Homo sapiens: one gene and its partner. The protein of the gene in region 1 purifies or fractionates together with the protein of each later gene. This does not show direct contact. Each region holds a gene or a part of one and is shown on either strand. Other genes may lie near its edges. The genes, in order: ECD and MYH7.

Evidence for each region.
Region 2: the proteins of ECD (region 1) and MYH7 purify together in Homo sapiens (affinity purification with mass spectrometry; 2 studies listed by BioGRID and IntAct, with this or other methods). This does not show direct contact.

The regions. Positions count from the first base shown.
Region 1 is NC_000010.11:73,140,401-73,144,314, reverse strand, and holds part of ECD (protein ecdysoneless homolog), read left to right. Parts: intron 1-2,829; coding exon of another isoform or gene 2,830-2,928; intron 2,929-3,914. UniProt on the Homo sapiens protein: Regulator of p53/TP53 stability and function. Inhibits MDM2-mediated degradation of p53/TP53 possibly by cooperating in part with TXNIP. May be involved transcriptional regulation. In vitro has intrinsic transactivation activity enhanced by EP300.
Region 2 is NC_000014.9:23,414,773-23,418,686, reverse strand, and holds part of MYH7 (myosin-7), read left to right. Parts: intron 1-280; coding exon 281-477; intron 478-623; exon of another isoform or gene 624-700; intron 701-1,000; coding exon 1,001-1,184; intron 1,185-1,313; exon of another isoform or gene 1,314-1,368; coding exon 1,369-1,534; intron 1,535-1,678; exon of another isoform or gene 1,679-1,694; coding exon 1,695-1,819; intron 1,820-2,374; coding exon 2,375-2,683; exon of another isoform or gene 2,684-2,686; intron 2,687-2,854; coding exon 2,855-3,058; exon of another isoform or gene 3,059-3,066; intron 3,067-3,180; coding exon 3,181-3,306; intron 3,307-3,416; coding exon 3,417-3,692; intron 3,693-3,914. UniProt on the Homo sapiens protein: Myosins are actin-based motor molecules with ATPase activity essential for muscle contraction. Forms regular bipolar thick filaments that, together with actin thin filaments, constitute the fundamental contractile unit of skeletal and cardiac muscle.

The DNA of each region.
Region 1 (3,914 bases):
TTTAGAATTGTTTTTAGCTCCTACGTATAATATCATAGACTTTCCCCTAATTTATCAGAGATTGTAATAGTGAAAAATTATAAGCAACCAAAGTATCCATCAATAATGGATAAATGAATTGCAGTGTACTTATATGATAGCCTGCTATCTAGTAGTTAACCAGAGATGAACTATATTTACATATATCTGATTTAGGATTTTTCAACCTCAGTGCTACTGACATTTTGGATCTGATAATTTATTGTGAGGGACTGGCTTGCACTTCATAGGACATTTAACAGCATCCCTGGCCTCTATCCAGTAAATATCAATAGCACTTCTCCCTCATCCCCCAATCATGACAACCAAAAATGTCTCCAGACATTGCCAGAGGTACCTGGGCGGCAAAATCGTCCCTGGTTGGGAACCACTGATCTAAATGGGAACCACTGATCTAAATGAATAGATTTCAAAAACATAATGCAGTGAAAAAAAAAAAAAAAGCAAGTTATAAATACGTACAGTAATGGGTACCAAAAAAAAAAAAAAATAGAACGAATGAGTAAGACCTACTATTTGATAGTACAACAGGGTGACTATAGTCAATGATAACTTAATTATACATTTAACATAGAGTGTAATTGGATTGTTTGTAACTCGAAGGATAAATGCTTGAGAGGATGGATACCCCATTCTCCATGATGTACTTATTTCACATTACATGCCTGTATCAAAACATCTCATATACCCTATAAATATATACACCTACTATGTACCCACAAAAATTAAAAATGAAAATGAAAAAGAATAAAATATATACCGTGTGGATGTTACACATATAAAAATTTTAAATATACAAAATACTATACAGGCTGGGCGCAGTGGCTCACACCTGTAATGCCAGCATTTTGGGAGGCCAAGGCGGGTGGATCACGAGGTCAGGAGTTCAAGACCAGCCTGGCCAATATGGGAAACCCTGTCTCTACTAAAAATTCAAAAATTAGCTGGGCGTGTTGGCACGCCCCTGTAATCCCAGCTGCTCGGGAGGCTGAGGCAGGAGAATCGCATGAACCCTGGAGGTGGAGGTTGCAGTGAGCCGACATCGCACCACTGCACTCCAGCCTAGGTGACAGAGCAAGACTCCGTCTCAAAACAAAACAATACATTATTTATAGATACATATATATTCATTTATTCAACAAATATTTATTGAATGCCTCCTATGTGCCAGGCCCTATTCCAGGTACTGGGGATATAATAAATGAACCCAAAGTGTCCTTGTCCTTATAGAGCTTACATGCTAATGTAGGAGAAAGACCGCAAGCCATTATGTAATATTAGGGGGTGGTAAGTGCTATGAAGAAAAAGCAGTGTGTGGGGTAGAGGGGTAGAGACTGCTCTTCTAGATAGATTAGTCAAGGAAGGCCTTTCTAAGGAAGTTTTCTTTGAAAAGAGACCTGAATGAAGTGAAGGAGTGAGACATTCAGTTATTTAGGGGAATAACATTCCAGCAAAAGGACAGACAGCAAATACAAGAAATAGAAACAGAAATATATATACATACAGAGAGAGAGAAAAGTGCCGAAGTATACTTGAGAAAGCAGTCACCTCTGGGGAGCAAGACAATGGATTGGGATGGGTGGCAGTGGTCATCAAAGGAAACATTAGCTTTCTCTACAATTTTTTTTTTTTTTTTTTTTTTTGAGATGGAGTCTCTCTCTGTCACCAGGCTGGAGTGTAGTGGCACGATCTCAGCTCACCGCAGCCTCCACCTCCCGGGTTCAAGCGATGCCCCTGCCTCAGCCTCCTGAGTAGCTGGGACTACAGGCGCGTGCCATCATACCTGGCTAATCTTTTCGTATTTTAGCACAGACAGGGTTTCACCATGTTGGCCAGGATGGTCTCGATCTCCTGACCTGTGATCTGCCCTCCTCAGCCTCCCAAAGTGCTGGGATTACATCTCTACAATATTTTTAAGGTACATGATAAACCTATACACTTTTTTGTCAATTAAAAATAAACAAATAGGCCGGGCACAGTGGCTCACACCTGTAATCCCAGCACTTTGGGAGACCGAGATGGGTGAATCACCTGAGGTCAGGAGTTTGAGACCAACCTGGCCAACATGGTGAAACCCCATCTCTACTACAAATACAAAAAATTAGCCGGATGAGGTGGTGGGCACCTGTAATCCCAGCTACTCAAATTAAAAATAAATAAATAGCCAGGCACAGTGGCTAATGCCTGTAATCCCAGCTACTTGCTGAGATAGGAAGATTGCTTGATCCCAAGAGTCAAGGCTGCAGTGAGCTGTGATCATGCCACGCACTCTAGCCTAGGCGACAGAGTGAGACCCTGTCTTAGAAAAAGAAAAAAAAGAAACTATGCACAGAGATACTTATGTGTTGAGTGAGTGACATAATGGTGACATGATTTGTTACATAAATTGATGGCACCCTGTCTGAACTATTAAGAATGGATCAAATCAAGTTGTATAAAGGACTTGCTTTAATTGGATAAACATTTGCATACCTTGCAAAATCACGTAGGTGATGGGGAACTGTCTCTACTCTGTATTATTAATATGTAAACGTTACTAGGAGAGAGAATAAACCAAATAATCATAACAAAAGGCAAAATAAAAATCATTCTGGAATATCAAATGCTAAAGAGAGTCATAGTGAGAAGGTAATAAACTTTCACTAAGGTTGAAGCAGAGATGTTAAAAAAAGAAAGATAATGGAAGGCTTCAGGGAGGAGGTATTTGAGTTAAGTCTTAAAGAATGAGGATTTTTTTTCTTTTTATGGAGTCTCTTTTTTTTTTGAGACGGAGTCTTGCTCTGTGCCCAGGTTGGAGGTGCAGTGGCGCGATCCTGGCTTACTGCAAGCTCCACCTCCTGGGTTCACGCCATTCATCTGCCTCAGCCTCCTGAGTACCTGGGACAACAGGTACCCACCACCACGCCCAGCTAATTTTTTTTTTTTTTTTTTTTTTTAGTAGAGACGGGGTTTCACTGTGTTAGCCAGGATGGTCTCGATCTCCTGACCTCGTGATCCGCCCGCCTTGGCCTCCCAAAGTGCTGGGATTACAGGCGTGAGCCACCGCACCCGGCCAACGGAGTCTCGCTCTTGTCGCCCAGCCTGGAGTGCAATGGCACAATCCTGGCTCACTGCAACCTCCGCCTCCTGGGTAATACAGACTTTGCAAAAGTTAAAGAACTTCCCTGGGTTCTGGTTTTCTCATCTGTAAAACAGGATTATTACCTTCTATAATAGTAACAAAAGGACTCAATAAGAAAATGTATTTAAAGTGTTAGCATAGCATTTAATACATGCTAGATAAATTTTAATTGATGCTTTCCTTCTGGATCTTCTTTTCCTCGTATATAAAATATATATTATATGTATATTTTTATGTATTTTTAGTACGTGTTTTATATGTATATGTACTATTAACATAATACAACTGTATGTACATATATATACATATATAGAGAGAGACCCTGTCTCTGCATGTATGTATAGAAAGAATTATACGAGATCAGTGGCTTCATAATGATGTTCCATGGAGCCTGCTTCAGAGCCAAAAAGGAAGGCCAATTGTGTAGATCTCTGAGCTTCTATCCTCCAATTTATTTATTTTTATTTTATTTTATTTTATTTATTTATTGAGATGGAGTCTTGCTCAGTCGCCCATGCTGGGGCAGCTCACTGCAACCTCCACCTCCCGGGTTCAAGCAATTCTCCTGCCTCAGCCTCCCGAGTAGCTGGGATTACAGGCACGTGCCACAATGCCCAGCTAATTTTTGTATTTTTAGTAGAGACGGGGTTTCACCATGTTGGCCAAGTGAACTCCTGACCTCAAGTGATCTCCCCGCCTTGGCCTCCCAAAGTGCTGGGATTACAGGCATGAGCCACTGTGCCTGGCCTATCCT
Region 2 (3,914 bases), on another chromosome or scaffold:
TGTTTCCCTCTCCCCAGCCAGGTAAAATGGCGGTGATGATGACCATGTCTGGTGTGGGGAGGAGCTCAGGGCCAATGGCCATGAAGCTTTTCTTAAATAGTTCACTGCTGTATTGGCATTCTTTGTTATCAGCAAACAGTAAACCATGACAGGTCCACTGGGGGTTTGGACATAGATGAGGCCAAGGGATGATGTTGAGATTGGGGTGAGGAGAAGGGCAAGGGTGGGGTTGCTTTATGGAGAAAGCTGAACCCACCTCCTGGTGCCCACCCCTCCCCAGGCGAAGAACGCCCTGGCCCACGCACTGCAGTCGGCCCGGCATGACTGCGACCTGCTGCGGGAGCAGTACGAGGAGGAGACGGAGGCCAAGGCCGAGCTGCAGCGCGTCCTTTCCAAGGCCAACTCGGAGGTGGCCCAGTGGAGGACCAAGTATGAGACGGACGCCATTCAGCGGACTGAGGAGCTCGAGGAGGCCAAGTGAGTTCTGAGCAGCCTGACTTCTGGCTGAGGCCCCTTTGCAGGCAGGACTCAGCCCAGCCCCAGCCTCAGCAGATCCCACACAGGCGATGCTTAGCTAGTGTTTGACAACACAGGAGGACTCTGCCCCGGCCCCACCTCCTTCTCCTCTCAGGGAAGCTTTTTGCTCGAATTATGTTTCTGATCCGAATATAAGACGAACAAAAGGTTTGTCTGAGGGCAGAGTGCTTCCGTCTGGGGCAGGGCACTGTGGCAGGGAAAGGCAGTGGGGAGGGCTGCAGAAGCCCATACCTCCTCAATGTCCATAGCGCAGAGGCTGGGCCAGGGTCAGAGGGTGCCTGGGTCTCCACGCCCTGCTGGGATCCTCTGCCTGATGTTCTCGGCCCCTGGGACCTGTCCTCAGGCTTCTCCAGCTACACTTCTGAGGTTTCAAGGATTGTCTTTGAGAAGGTTCATGTTGTTTCCTCTTGTCCCCATCCACACCCTCCATCCTCCCCACCCTCTGCCACCCTCCCCTGGGCAGGAAGAAGCTGGCCCAGCGGCTGCAGGAAGCTGAGGAGGCCGTGGAGGCTGTTAATGCCAAGTGCTCCTCGCTGGAGAAGACCAAGCACCGGCTACAGAATGAGATCGAGGACTTGATGGTGGACGTAGAGCGCTCCAATGCTGCTGCTGCAGCCCTGGACAAGAAGCAGAGGAACTTCGACAAGGTGGGCCCTGGGTGGGGGCCGCAGCCAGCATGCAGGGCAAGGGGGCATGAGGGGTTCAGTGAGAGGCCAGAGCCATCCTCCTTGGAGGTGGGGGAGGAGGGCTGAGCCCAGGCAGGTCCTGAGACAGACCCTGGACATGGGGCTGAGGCTGGGGGGCTGAAGAGTGAGCCTTGTCCCCGGGCAGATCCTGGCCGAGTGGAAGCAGAAGTATGAGGAGTCGCAGTCGGAGCTGGAGTCCTCGCAGAAGGAGGCTCGCTCCCTCAGCACAGAGCTCTTCAAACTCAAGAACGCCTATGAGGAGTCCCTGGAACATCTGGAGACCTTCAAGCGGGAGAACAAAAACCTGCAGGGTGTGCTGGGGGCCCAAGAGGCTGGGGAGGGGCTGCACTGGCAGTGTTCCCATATGGTGCCACCCAAGGGCTCCAAGAGGCGTCTGGGCAAAGAGGCGTGTCCCTCCAACTCCACTGGACCTCAGCAGCCCTCAACCGAGTTACCGTGTTCCCCACACAGAGGAGATCTCCGACTTGACTGAGCAGTTGGGTTCCAGCGGAAAGACTATCCATGAGCTGGAGAAGGTCCGAAAGCAGCTGGAGGCCGAGAAGATGGAGCTGCAGTCAGCCCTGGAGGAGGCCGAGGTGTGTGTGTGTGCAGGGCACGGGGTGCAGGGAGCTGAGCTCCAGGCTTTTGGTCCCTGTTCTCATCCCCCGCTTTGTCCGTTTTGTTCACTGTCCCATCCCCAGAGCCTAGGACAGAGCCTGGCACATAGTAGGCATTCAGTGAAGATTTGTGGAGTGAATGAATGACCAGTCACTGAACTCTCTTCACATAAACATTTTACCCATTGCATCTTAGCTGAGCTTCCCATTTCCACATACCTCCCGGTTCCCACCTCTGCCTCCCTCTGTTTTCTTTTATACTCTATACCTGATTGCCTCTGTTTCCTTGGCAACACTTTTCTCTTCATTTTCCTCCTTGTCTTCATAGCTGGCTCTCCCCTGTGAGGGCCTGAATCACTTTCTCTTAGGCTTATTTTTATTTTCTCTTAGATTCTCTTTTCCTCCACCTTCTGCTTCTTTGAACCACTTACACCACTCTTGAAGTCACTTCGTATCCATGATTAGTGAGCAGGCCCCCACCCTGCCCTGTGCCCTGACTGTCTGCCTGCATCCCCTCCCCCAACCCCTTCCCAGGCCTCCCTGGAGCACGAGGAGGGCAAGATCCTCCGGGCCCAGCTGGAGTTCAACCAGATCAAGGCAGAGATCGAGCGGAAGCTGGCAGAGAAGGACGAGGAGATGGAACAGGCCAAGCGCAACCACCTGCGGGTGGTGGACTCGCTGCAGACCTCCCTGGACGCAGAGACACGCAGCCGCAACGAGGCCCTGAGGGTGAAGAAGAAGATGGAAGGAGACCTCAATGAGATGGAGATCCAGCTCAGCCACGCCAACCGCATGGCCGCCGAGGCCCAGAAGCAAGTCAAGAGCCTCCAGAGCTTGTTGAAGGTACTCACCCAGAGGGGACTGGCCTCCACGTGGCCTGGCGAAGCAGTAGTGTCTTGATACAGGCACCAGATTCCTCCTGCCCCTAGGTTACTGCAGGGACCTCTGACAGGTGCCTTTAGTGAAGGGAACCGAGGCTGGCTCCCTGCTCATGCCCACTCTCCTGATCCTCAGGACACCCAGATTCAGCTGGACGATGCAGTCCGTGCCAACGACGACCTGAAGGAGAACATCGCCATCGTGGAGCGGCGCAACAACCTGCTGCAGGCTGAGCTGGAGGAGTTGCGTGCCGTGGTGGAGCAGACAGAGCGGTCCCGGAAGCTGGCGGAGCAGGAGCTGATTGAGACTAGTGAGCGGGTGCAGCTGCTGCATTCCCAGGTGAGCAGCTCCCCTGCTCATTCCTGAAGGGAGCACAGGCTGGGGCTCAGCAAGCAAGGCTTGAGAGCTATGCATAGATGCTCAATGCTTTTCCTGCTCTGCCCAACCCTCCCCCAACCCAGAACACCAGCCTCATCAACCAGAAGAAGAAGATGGATGCTGACCTGTCCCAGCTCCAGACTGAAGTGGAGGAGGCAGTGCAGGAGTGCAGGAATGCTGAGGAGAAGGCCAAGAAGGCCATCACGGATGTAAGTCCCCCACTCCACCGACCCGATCCAGACCAGTGTCTCTCCGTGGGCTGGGCAGCAAGTGTGTGAGGACTTGACCAGACCATGTGCCACCTCTCTCCTGCACACAGGCCGCCATGATGGCAGAGGAGCTGAAGAAGGAGCAGGACACCAGCGCCCACCTGGAGCGCATGAAGAAGAACATGGAACAGACCATTAAGGACCTGCAGCACCGGCTGGACGAAGCCGAGCAGATCGCCCTCAAGGGCGGCAAGAAGCAGCTGCAGAAGCTGGAAGCGCGGGTGCGGGAGCTGGAGAATGAGCTGGAGGCCGAGCAGAAGCGCAACGCAGAGTCGGTGAAGGGCATGAGGAAGAGCGAGCGGCGCATCAAGGAGCTCACCTACCAGGTGCGACGGGCGGTGACTCCAGGCAGAGCCCTGGCACCATAGCCACAGTGACAACCAGCTGAGGAGAATGAAGAGTTTGCTCTTAGCCTCTTCCAGGGCGAGGATGGGAATGCAGCCCCCGTTTCACTTTGCCTAGCCCTGCCCCACTCTGAATGTCCCCTAGCTCAGAGGTCAGTCTCTGAGCCTCCTGGCCTGGGAGCTCCATCTCAACACCCACTCTTA